Regions from separate parts of the Homo sapiens genome. Here all the other regions are reported to be linked to region 2. Evidence: microRNA targets listed by miRTarBase, many of them from high-throughput screens and not tested one by one. Region 2 holds a microRNA gene; each other region holds the end of a gene's coding sequence. Distances are from middle to middle.
What was found. Region 2 holds the annotated microRNA hsa-miR-4452 (UUGAAUUCUUGGCCUUAAGUGAU, at 1,921-1,943, opposite strand). A microRNA usually pairs through its seed, bases 2 to 8, with sites in the 3' UTR of a target mRNA and lowers its output. Matches are read on the target gene's strand: a 7mer-m8 pairs with bases 2 to 8, a 7mer-A1 pairs with bases 2 to 7 and ends in A, and an 8mer does both.

Region 1 (3,181 bases), not on the chromosome of region 2:
TCAGCCATAGAAAATGAACAGTCACATCCAAAGCGCAGCCATCCTGAGATGGCTTCAAACTTAGAGGGAGGTGTAGGTGCTGTCCAGGCCAGACACTCTTCAGTTTCCAAACAGTTCCTAGAGGAAGAGAAGCCACTATCACCCAGAAGCCACCTACACCCAGACTAGACCCGGGGCTCTGCCCTGTGTTTGTCAGGGGCCACTAGTGCCCTGACTGCTGTTTCCTGATGATATTCCTTCAAGCAGAGGCCTCTATTACACGTGCCCCAGCTCACCTACATCAGGGAGAGAGTGGTCTCCTGACCGTGATGGTGGGAGCCCCTAGTGGAGCTGAGCAGACACTCTCTTCCCTTCATTTTCACAGGACCTGGAAAGGACAACCACACTTGCTTTACTGGAGATGATTCTTATGTTCTATTTTATTCACTTCTGCAAGAAATACTCAAATTTTGTATAATAAGCCTTGTGATATCATGATAAATATGTATCTGGTCTTCATCCTCAATGACTAGCAGAGAGCTCCCCAAACCTTGGAGAATTCCTGAGGGATAAGGGTGCTAAGAGCATCTTTTCTTATCATATTTGGTCTTTGACACTTGTTCCTGACACAGAGCTGTTAAACCCATTGGAATTTCCTTAGTGATGCATGTCTTTGTTCTAATAAGGCAACTCTTGGATTTCCGATGGGTTCAGCTTGGGGGCTAACTGGAAAGACCAAGGCATGATTAGAAACTTGGAAGCTGAGGCGGGCGGACCACGAGGTCAGGAGATAGACACCATCTTGGCCAACATGGTGAAACCCTGTCTCTACTACACTACAAAAAATCAGCCGGGTGTGGTGGCGAGTGCCTGTGGTCTCAGCTACTCGGGAGGCTGAAGCAGGGGAATTGCTTGAACCTGGGAGGCGGAGGTTGCAGTGAGCCGATATCATGCCACTGCACTCCAGCCTGGGCGACAGAGAATCTGTCTCAAAAAAAAAAAAAAAAAAAAAAGCCAGGCACAGTGGCTCCAGCCTGTAATCCCAGCACTTTGGGAGGCCAAGGCGGGCGGATCATGAGGTCAGGAGATCCAGACCATCCTGGCTAACACAGTGAAACCCCATCTCTACTAAAAATACAAAAAATTAGCAAGGCATGGTGGGGGTGCATGTAGTCCCAGCTACTCAGGAGGCTGAGGCAGAAGAATGGCATGAACCCGGGAGGTGGAGTTTGTAGTGAGCCGAGATTGCGCCACTGCACTCCAGCCTGGGCGACAGAGCGAGACTCCGTCTCAAGAAAAAAAAAAAAAAAAAAAGAAATCAGCAAGTCATAAAACTGAACTCCTAGGCTCCTAGAATGGGAAAGAAAGAGGGACTATGCAAAATTAGGTTTTCTGGAAAGTGAAAAATAGAGTGCTTCTTTTGAGTACTGAGCTTTACCAGATCTTTTGGGGATTATGAAGTAGTTGAAACCCTCTCTACAATCTAAGGCCAAAGGCAAATTTTAAATGACTAAAATACATTCTTAGGCAAGTATTAATAATTGTAGTGAGCAAGATTTGGTTCAAAAGTGAATAAAAAGGCCGGGCATGGTGGCTCGTGTGTAATCCCAGCACTTTGGGAGGCTGAGGTGGGCGGACTGCCTGAGCTTAGGAGTTCACCACCAGCCTAGGCAACACAGTGAAACCCCATCTCTACTAAAATACAAAAAATTAGCTGGGCATGGCATGGTGCACCTGTAGTCCCAAGTACTTGGAAGGCTGAGGCAGGAGAATTGCTTGAATCCAGGAGGTGGAGGTTGCAGTGAGCCAAGATCATGCCACTACACTCCAGCCTGGGTGACAGAGCGAGACTCCATCTCAAAAAAAAAAAAAAAAAAAAAGTAAATAAAGGTAGGCTGGGTGTGGTGGCTTGTGTCTGTAATTCCAGCACTTTGGGAAGCTGAGGCAGGAGGATTCCTTGAGCCCAGGAGGTTGAGACCAGCCTGGGCAACATAGCAAGACCCTATCTCTTAAAAAAAAAAAAAAGCTGGGTGTGGTGGTGTGTGCCTGTGGTCCCAGCTACTCAGGAGGTTAAGGCAAGAGGATCACTTGAGCCCAGGAGGTTGAGGCCACAGTGAACCACGATCACACCACTGGGCTCCCGCTGGAGGGCTACGACGAGACCCAGTCTCAAAAATAATACATAAAGGTAGAGCGCAGATAACAAGGACAGAACCCCGTTACATGTCAGCCTGGCTCTTATCATCAGAAGTCTCTTACCTGGCATCAGCTCACATTTCAGAAGGCCCCCTACTTCCTCATTCCTCACTCACTGAAACTATCAGTCTGTAATGAGGCTCAGGACAGATTGAACCTATCTTGTAGGAGATACTCAAGGAAGATCCATAATTGACTGATATACTCCAAATGGCAAGGAATGTGGTTCTGGACAAGAAAAGAAACAGGCCAAGTCACATAGAAACATATCAAAATGACAGCACTTTATTTCTTTTTTGAGATGGAGTCTCGCTCTGTTGCCCAGGCTGGAGTGCAGTGGCATGATCTCAGCTCACTGCAACTTCCGCCTCCTGGGTTCAAGTGATTCTCCTACCTCAGCCTCCCGAATAGCTGGGCTTACAGGCATGCACCACCATGCCCGGCTCATTTTTGTATTTTTAGTAGAGACAGGATTTTACCATGTTGGCCAGGCTGGTTTCAAACTCCTGATCTCAAATGATCTGCCTGCCTTGGCCTCCCAAAGTGCTGGGATTATAGGCGTGAGCCACCACGCCCAGCCGACAGCACTTTATTTTGATGAATTCTTTGGTGTCGGATAAGGTGTGTACTTTGTCTAAATCTTTCCCCACATTCAAGACATTTGTAAGGCTTTTCCCCAGTGTGAATTCTCTGGTGTTTAATGAGGGTTGCACTCTGATTGAAGCGTTTCCCACAGACGGAACATCCATAGGGCTTCTCCCCAGTGTGGATTCTGTGGTGTTTAAAGAGGTCAGAGCGCTGTTTGAAGCTCTTCTCGCATTCTTCACACTTATAGGGTCTTTCCCCTTTATGTAGTCTCTGATGTCTAAAAAGGTTGGAAATATGACAGGTTTCCCCGCATTCCTCACATTTAAAATGTTTGTCTCTACTGTGGGTACTTTGATGACGATTTAGGTGTGAATTCTGCCTGAAGCGCTCCCCACATTTCAGACAGGTGTACGGCTTC
Region 2 (3,181 bases):
TGATTGGAAAACTGATGCAGAATCTAGAAGACGAGAGCACAGAGATTACAAAAGTTAATCACAGAATAAAAATAATGCAGTACTTAATATATTCTTGCCTGATAGCAAGGAAGAAGAATAATTCCCTTCCTGGGCTGCAGGGAAGAGCATGGAGAAAGAGGGAAAAAAGAGAAGAAAGTCAGATGTAGGAAAAGTCCCTGAGGGGACTGGCCTCTTTCCAAATAGGTTTCTTGACATGAGAAAAGAAGGTACTTTGGGGTAGGCGTGGTGGCTCATTCCTGAAATCCCAGCACTTTGCGAGGCTGAGGTGGGAGGATCACTTGAGCCCAGAAGTTTGAGACCAGCCTGGGCAACATGGCAAGACCCTATCTTGAACAACAAAAGCAGAGGTACTTTTGTTAGATTTCCTACATGAAATCAGGGAGGAGCCACTTTCAGAATGCCCACTGATAACGCAGGGTGGCTGCAAAGAGTATGAATGGCACCAAGTCAGGATTGGGGTGGGGTGGGGGCTGAGAGAGGCTCCTACCCTACCAGCCCCTACAATCCCCATGGGGCATTCTTGAAATCTTGAAAGGGGCATGGGAGAGATCTGGGAACAATGCGACAGCTGGCTTATGGGGAAAGTGGGGAGTGGGGGCAGGGGAGACATAGCAGAGAATTGGGAGGTCCCACACTAAAGCCAGGGGTAGTTGGTTCTCAGCAGCAGCAGGAGAAGATAACCAAACTCCTGGGAGTAATTGCTCTGCACTGCACTGCCCAGTGTCCAGAACAAACCCATAGGCAAAATCCATGTAAACAAGACTTCACAGCCAGGAAGGAATGGAGGGTCACACAAAGACCAGATATGCCTTCCTTGCAGCAGGGTGGTAGCGTGAGCTTTTTCTATTCCCAAAGACCGCCACCAGGAAGGGGAGAAGAAGTGGTAGAAAGGAAAAATCTTGAGAGGGAAAAATAGCCCTGAGAGGGAGGCTGAACTTCAAATGTGATAATAACCTCGAAGAGACAGACAGAGTTGCACTGAACTAGTGACAAAATAAATTCAGTTACAGAGAAATTTAAAGAAACTCTGTACTCATCCAAGATATGATTGTGAATTTCAAAGCTGGGACATCTATCTACAGTGCTATTTTGGTCTACCCAGTAATTATTCTCTATTCTGAGAAAAAAGCAGCTCTGAGTTTCTGCTGCAGAGCTCCCTGAACCTTCCTGGGTCCTAATCTTCCAAAGCCTGGGTGTTTTTTATTCTGTGGACTGCCAAGAAATTCCTTTCCTTCCTTAAGTTTGTAACTGGGTCAGTTTCTGTTATTTGCACTAAAGAAAGAAGCCCAGCTGATACAAAATATATAATCCCAATTTTGTAAATGCACATGAATACACCGGCACACACACACACACACACACACACACACACACACACACACACAGGTGGGGAAAAAGAAAGAAATAAAATATTAATAGTGATCCTATCTGGATAATCAAGTTATAAAATATTATTTTCTTCTATGTTTCCAAGTTTCCTATTCTCCATAATGAGTATGCATTATATTTTTATTCAGAATATTGAGAGATAGAAGTATTATCCATAATGTCCAGAAAAATAACATTAAGAAGCCCAATTACATTAAAAAGGTATGTCACGTCATTGGCCTTTGTCTCTTGGCACCCTGGGCCAGCCAGCAGATGCAAGCACAAGCACTGTTGGGCAGTGTGTTATAATGCAAAGAATACTAGGCCAGGAGTTCAGAGACCAGAGTTTTAGCTCTGGCTCTGCCACTGACAAGTTGTGTGATGTTTAATAAGTCTTTCAACCTCCTTTAGCCCCAAATTTCTTTATCTGTAACATGAAGGCTTCAACTCCCTAGCTGGACACAGTGGTGTGTACCTGTAGTCCCAGCTATTCAGGAGGCTGGGACAGGGATCACTTAAGGCCAAGAATTCAAGGCTGTGCACACTACAGCCTTGCACTCTTGGCCTCAAGTGATCCATGATCGCACCTGTGAATAGCCACTGCACTCTAGCCTGGGCAACGTGAGACTCTCTCTAAAAAAAAGAAACTCCCTATGATAATACAGAGTTCACTGACCTGTCAACCGTACCCTAGCTCAGGTTCCAACTGTCAACATTTCTCAGATATATGTATGAGAAGACAAAATTTCCCAGTATGCTAGCCAAAGTCTTAGAGAAAACTTTCAAGGGAACACTACAGACACTGCTTGCTTTGCTTTTGAGACTGAAACATAGCAATAGCACTGATGTTTTCCATCTTGTTTTCATGCAATCTCTGTCTGAAGGGACACTTCACAACCTAGCATTGCCTGTCACCAGCATGAAAGTGCAGCTAGTGCTTGTCGCTGGCATCAGCCCCAGATCCAGCATAAGAACCCAAATACCATCATGCTGGGGGGCACCTTGAGCACACTGCCTCACCATGCAGCTGGTCATCAGAGCCTCAGAGGGCAAGGAAGGTTCACGTATAGAGGGAACCAGTGAAAGGCAAATTTACTACTGCTGCTTCAATCTGTGAAATCGCAAAGCCAAGGAAGTTAAAGGGATGTGGTGCAATATTTCACACTAGATACCTGATCCGTCCAGGTGGGGGGACTTAGATGGATTCCCAAAGAAGTAGGTGCATTGAGAAGAGTACACCAGGAATTGAGCTATAGGAATAACAGAGACCAAACTAGCAATTTTACATCTGTTCAAAACTATGACCTCATCAAACTAATTTCTCAGCTAGCTTTTTTCTTCTTCCATTCTTGTATCCATGTCTTGCAGCTTCCTCTGGGAATCTTCTTCCTCTCCCTGTAGTATATGATGTCTAAAAATCCTCCCTGGCTTGTTGGGAACAAACTTCCCATACACCAGAGTGACATATGCCCTGAGACTCTACACGATGGCTGAAGAGACACCTAACTCACAGGACTAAGGAAAATGTAAGCCCTAAACCACTTAGCTCTGTGTCATAAAAATCTACTGTCCTTTATTCTGTTTATCTTTATTTCTAACCTAAGAGAAAAAGTAGAATGGAACAGACTGGGTAATCTATTCTAAGAAAAACTTGAATGTTTTAAACACAAAAAAGAGAAGAACTAAAATTTGAATGCAGAAAAGATACAATTAAGCACATTTGCAACCTTGGCAAGTACATGAAGAGGAGTGTAAAGGGAATTAGATTGTG
Region 3 (3,156 bases), not on the chromosome of region 2:
TGGTACAGGTCAACAGCCGCTTCAACTCGCCCACCACACAAGACCTGGTCTACATCGACCCCAGCCCTGACTACTGCGTGCGCAATGAGAGCACCGGCTCGCTGGGCACGCAGGGCCGCCTGTGCAACAAGACGTCGGAGGGCATGGATGGCTGCGAGCTCATGTGCTGCGGCCGTGGCTACGACCAGTTCAAGACCGTGCAGACGGAGCGCTGCCACTGCAAGTTCCACTGGTGCTGCTACGTCAAGTGCAAGAAGTGCACGGAGATCGTGGACCAGTTTGTGTGCAAGTAGTGGGTGCCACCCAGCACTCAGCCCCGCTCCCAGGACCCGCTTATTTATAGAAAGTACAGTGATTCTGGTTTTTGGTTTTTAGAAATATTTTTTATTTTTCCCCAAGAATTGCAACCGGAACCATTTTTTTTCCTGTTACCATCTAAGAACTCTGTGGTTTATTATTAATATTATAATTATTATTTGGCAATAATGGGGGTGGGAACCAAGAAAAATATTTATTTTGTGGATCTTTGAAAAGGTAATACAAGACTTCTTTTGATAGTATAGAATGAAGGGGAAATAACACATACCCTAACTTAGCTGTGTGGACATGGTACACATCCAGAAGGTAAAGAAATACATTTTCTTTTTCTCAAATATGCCATCATATGGGATGGGTAGGTTCCAGTTGAAAGAGGGTGGTAGAAATCTATTCACAATTCAGCTTCTATGACCAAAATGAGTTGTAAATTCTCTGGTGCAAGATAAAAGGTCTTGGGAAAACAAAACAAAACAAAACAAACCTCCCTTCCCCAGCAGGGCTGCTAGCTTGCTTTCTGCATTTTCAAAATGATAATTTACAATGGAAGGACAAGAATGTCATATTCTCAAGGAAAAAAGGTATATCACATGTCTCATTCTCCTCAAATATTCCATTTGCAGACAGACCGTCATATTCTAATAGCTCATGAAATTTGGGCAGCAGGGAGGAAAGTCCCCAGAAATTAAAAAATTTAAAACTCTTATGTCAAGATGTTGATTTGAAGCTGTTATAAGAATTAGGATTCCAGATTGTAAAAAGATCCCCAAATGATTCTGGACACTAGATTTTTTTGTTTGGGGAGGTTGGCTTGAACATAAATGAAAATATCCTGTTATTTTCTTAGGGATACTTGGTTAGTAAATTATAATAGTAAAAATAATACATGAATCCCATTCACAGGTTCTCAGCCCAAGCAACAAGGTAATTGCGTGCCATTCAGCACTGCACCAGAGCAGACAACCTATTTGAGGAAAAACAGTGAAATCCACCTTCCTCTTCACACTGAGCCCTCTCTGATTCCTCCGTGTTGTGATGTGATGCTGGCCACGTTTCCAAACGGCAGCTCCACTGGGTCCCCTTTGGTTGTAGGACAGGAAATGAAACATTAGGAGCTCTGCTTGGAAAACAGTTCACTACTTAGGGATTTTTGTTTCCTAAAACTTTTATTTTGAGGAGCAGTAGTTTTCTATGTTTTAATGACAGAACTTGGCTAATGGAATTCACAGAGGTGTTGCAGCGTATCACTGTTATGATCCTGTGTTTAGATTATCCACTCATGCTTCTCCTATTGTACTGCAGGTGTACCTTAAAACTGTTCCCAGTGTACTTGAACAGTTGCATTTATAAGGGGGGAAATGTGGTTTAATGGTGCCTGATATCTCAAAGTCTTTTGTACATAACATATATATATATATACATATATATAAATATAAATATAAATATATCTCATTGCAGCCAGTGATTTAGATTTACAGTTTACTCTGGGGTTATTTCTCTGTCTAGAGCATTGTTGTCCTTCACTGCAGTCCAGTTGGGATTATTCCAAAAGTTTTTTGAGTCTTGAGCTTGGGCTGTGGCCCTGCTGTGATCATACCTTGAGCACGACGAAGCAACCTTGTTTCTGAGGAAGCTTGAGTTCTGACTCACTGAAATGCGTGTTGGGTTGAAGATATCTTTTTTCTTTTCTGCCTCACCCCTTTGTCTCCAACCTCCATTTCTGTTCACTTTGTGGAGAGGGCATTACTTGTTCGTTATAGACATGGACGTTAAGAGATATTCAAAACTCAGAAGCATCAGCAATGTTTCTCTTTTCTTAGTTCATTCTGCAGAATGGAAACCCATGCCTATTAGAAATGACAGTACTTATTAATTGAGTCCCTAAGGAATATTCAGCCCACTACATAGATAGCTTTTTTTTTTTTTTTTTTAATAAGGACACCTCTTTCCAAACAGTGCCATCAAATATGTTCTTATCTCAGACTTACGTTGTTTTAAAAGTTTGGAAAGATACACATCTTTCATACCCCCCTTAGGCAGGTTGGCTTTCATATCACCTCAGCCAACTGTGGCTCTTAATTTATTGCATAATGATATTCACATCCCCTCAGTTGCAGTGAATTGTGAGCAAAAGATCTTGAAAGCAAAAAGCACTAATTAGTTTAAAATGTCACTTTTTTGGTTTTTATTATACAAAAACCATGAAGTACTTTTTTTATTTGCTAAATCAGATTGTTCCTTTTTAGTGACTCATGTTTATGAAGAGAGTTGAGTTTAACAATCCTAGCTTTTAAAAGAAACTATTTAATGTAAAATATTCTACATGTCATTCAGATATTATGTATATCTTCTAGCCTTTATTCTGTACTTTTAATGTACATATTTCTGTCTTGCGTGATTTGTATATTTCACTGGTTTAAAAAACAAACATCGAAAGGCTTATGCCAAATGGAAGATAGAATATAAAATAAAACGTTACTTGTATATTGGTAAGTGGTTTCAATTGTCCTTCAGATAATTCATGTGGAGATTTTTGGAGAAACCATGACGGATAGTTTAGGATGACTACATGTCAAAGTAATAAAAGAGTGGTGAATTTTACCAAAACCAAGCTATTTGGAAGCTTCAAAAGGTTTCTATATGTAATGGAACAAAAGGGGAATTCTCTTTTCCTATATATGTTCCTTACAAAAAAAAAAAAAAAAGAAATCAAGCAGATGGCTTAAAGCTGGTTATAGGATTGCTCACATTCTTTTAGCATTATGCATGTAACTTAATTGTTTTAGAGCGTGTTGCTGTTGTAACATCCCAGAGAAGAATGAAAAGGCACATGCTTTTATC
Region 4 (3,148 bases), 39 Mb from region 2:
GATAGATAGATAGATAGATAGATAGATAGATCGATCGATCTATCTCCACATCAGGGAGGCACATCAAGCCAGATGTTTAGGAACACAGTGTTTAATGAGCCTTATGGGGTATCATTAGTAACAGGTTAATGAAAACAGGCAAAGGTCCTGCAACTTGTGTCCGAGCCTGTTCTTTTTGCCATCAGGTCGACGCCCACGGTAACATTCTCCTCAGCACCCTGGAAATCCGGAATGAGACGAGTGGCTCGGAAGTGCTCACGAGCGTGAGCGACCCCAAGGCCACCATGTACTCCTATGACAGCGCCAGCATCCAGTACCGCAAGCCCCTGAGCAGCCGCGAGGCCTACGGGCGCGCCCTGGACCGGCACGGGGTACCCAGCAAGGGGCGCATCCGCAGGCGTGCCTCCCAGCTCAAAGTCAAGATCCCCGACTTGACTGATGTGAATTCCATAGACAAGTGGTCCCGAATGTTTTTCCCCATCACCTTTTCTCTTTTTAATGTCGTCTATTGGCTTTACTATGTACACTGAGGTCTGTTCTAATGGTTCCATTTAGACTACTTTCCTCTTCTATTGTTTTTTAACCTTACAGGTCCCCAACAGCGATACTGCTGTTTCTCGAGGTAAGAGATTCAGCCATCCAATTGGTTTTAGGTCTTGCATATCAGTTTTATTACTGCACCATGTTTACTTCAAAAAGACAAAACAAAAAAAAAATTATTTTTCCAGTCTACCGTGGTCCAGGTTATCAGCTCTTTAAGAGCTCTATTAATTGCCATGTTTACAAACAAACACAAAGAGAGAAGTTAGACAGGTAGATCTTTAGCAGTCTTTTCTAGTTTCCCTGGATTTCACTGATTTATTTTTTAGGGAAAATGAAAAGAGGACCTTGCTGTCCGCCTGCACTGCTTCCTGGTAAACTATAACAAACTTATGCTGCCAAAAAAAAAAAAAAAAAAACATAAAAAAAAACACACAATTTCCAGGATCTCAGAAGAAAAAAACAAAGCCATTGACAAGTTACAGATTTCCAGGAAGAAGGCAAAAGAAAAAGGAGCTTAGACAGGGAAGGAAGAGTCCCCTCTATCCTTAAGTTCTCCCATGTCCGTTGTAAAAGGGCTCCACAGCTCCACAGAAGAAGAGGGAAGGAAGGACAAGCGCTGGTCAAGGTTATGCAATCCCAACCTGCCATCTTCACTGCACCATTAAGCTGGATATTCTGAAATATGCTTCTTTCTCGACTTTCCGGCAAATTTTAAATTAACATTAGAATCCAACCTGGTCGACCTGGTAGCCATTGAGAACATTTTTCTTTTTTTCTTGAGAATAAGGAGCTTGGAAGGCAATGACCATTTTTCTAACTGGCCATTTCAAACATGCAGCCCTGAATTCATCTCATCAGCCTGGAACCCCCTGATGCTGTGCCAGGAAGCCATGCCACCCCAGTTCCATAGTTCCTGCTCCAGAGAGTGTGGGAGGAAGGGGATGGTGAGCAATTTTTGCTTGAGAAAAATATTGCCCTTGCCATTAGGAAGGCAAGATTTATGTGCTGTGAAAAGGGTGCCTGGGCAGTTATCTGAACTGCCAAATCTTAAATCAAATAGTATATATTTCTTTGCCTTCTAGAGAGCAGTATCTAATGGTGACAGGCTAGTCACACAGGCCTCAACTGGCACTTCATGGCTCTGCTCTCTGAGCTCTGCATTCCAGACTGGAATGAATGCTTTGGAAAATGCACAAATACCCATGTTGATGTCATTCCCCTTCAGGACCAGAATTCCATTTTAAAGAAAATCTTGAAAATTGCAGAACTACAGATAAAAACAAGAGCGATGAGAAAAGCAGTGGAGCTTCCAACACATGCACCAGTCCCTAAAGAATAGACCCTGTCTACACTCATTAATCACTGTCATTGCTCCTCTGCTTTATCTCCGCTTGTGGATTACTCTTGGTCATGGTTCTCATAGAAGGGGCATCCTTCAGTAGCCCAACACAATTCTAAACATGTCCAACCAGCTACAGTTGAGATTCTTCCCATGTTATATCACTGAAACCTTGTCATTTTATTTTTCAACCTCAGTATCTAAGAATTCTGTATGTTCATTTGCAAGACTGAATGAAACTGTAAGCTAACCAAACACTGATGCAGGAGGTTTGGGACCTGACCCATGAATGTGAAATAAGGGTTGAGGTAATAATAGGGACGATTGCCTGGCTTAATGATCTAGCTTTTTCCCTAAGACTGTGATGGGGTCCATGTTTACAATAGCATCAGCTTCTGGAAATTACAGTCTTCACCGGACAGATGATGCTGAATTTTTACTGATGAGCTGAAGGGGAGAAAGGTACAAGATATTCTTTTAGAAAGCAAGAGGAAAAGGGAACCTTAAAATAAATGAATAGTTAAGGCTGAAGATAATATATATACAAAAACTCTGCTTTAACTGGAAAAAATGATCTCAGTGGTTTCATGATAGGGACCACATTTTTATTTAGATTTTTAGTTGTATTATCACACTTTCCTGGTCAAGGAAATCTCCAGCCTTAGGGTATGAAGTCATCCATTTTGAAACTCTTCAGTCCCTTGGCAGGGTGAGATGCTTTGCCATCATAAAATGGCCATATAGAGTGGCATGTGGCCATGTCAGTGATTGTAAGGTTAATATTCCGTAATGACCGCAAAGGAACCACTGTGCAGCCATTTATCTTAAACACAGGAAGGAAAATTGTTGGCTGATGCCTAATAAAAATGAATCATTCTGGGTGTCAAAGCTCTTTTAAAAGCTTTTAAGAATGAAATGCTAAATCAGAAAGGAAGTATCTGTAATCTATGTTCCTTAACAAACAATTTATTTTTATTTATCTATTTAGATTATTATTCTTGGGAAAGATTGAGAATATTTGTATTTTTATTATTATATTTTTATCTTGTCTTTAAAAAATCTAACGATTTTGATGCTGTAGTTTTAGATGTAAAGCATCTTCTGAGAAAAAAAGAGAACATTTTGAATTCATATCTTAACCTTTGTAAAATGTAAACTTATTAAGCCTGAATCTACCCATCAGGCACAAAATGGTGTCACCATATGCCCTCCTGGGCAGTAGAGGGGCCACAGCCAGCATTATAAAAATCCTGGTAAATAGCTGAT

Region 1: the mRNA of ZNF394 is a reported target of hsa-miR-4452. The part of its 3' UTR that is shown has no 7-base or 8-base seed match.
Region 3: the mRNA of WNT5A is a reported target of hsa-miR-4452. Seed matches in the 3' UTR shown: 7mer-m8 at 1,535-1,541.
Region 4: the mRNA of GABRB1 is a reported target of hsa-miR-4452. The part of its 3' UTR that is shown has no 7-base or 8-base seed match.

What each region holds. Positions count from the first base shown.
Region 1 is chr7:99,490,802-99,493,982 of GRCh38, forward strand. It overlaps ZNF394 (zinc finger protein 394), which reads right to left. Exons shown (of 3, transcript NM_032164.4): 3 at 2,439-3,181. The coding sequence ends at 2,728. Among named protein-coding and RNA genes, the nearest start is that of ZNF394, 7.9 kb to the right of the region's middle.
Region 2 is chr4:86,540,565-86,543,745 of GRCh38, forward strand. MIR4452 (microRNA 4452) reads right to left here and starts at 1,988; the gene lies at 1,918-1,988. It also overlaps a transcript of MAPK10 not described here.
Region 3 is chr3:55,467,229-55,470,384 of GRCh38, reverse strand. WNT5A (Wnt family member 5A) reads left to right here. Exons shown (of 5, transcript NM_003392.7): 5 at 1-3,156. The coding sequence ends at 293. Among named protein-coding and RNA genes, the nearest start is that of WNT5A, 18 kb to the left of the region's middle.
Region 4 is chr4:47,425,489-47,428,636 of GRCh38, forward strand. It overlaps GABRB1 (gamma-aminobutyric acid type A receptor subunit beta1), which reads left to right. Exons shown (of 9, transcript NM_000812.4): 9 at 186-959. The coding sequence ends at 530. Among named protein-coding and RNA genes, the nearest start is that of COMMD8, 37 kb to the right of the region's middle.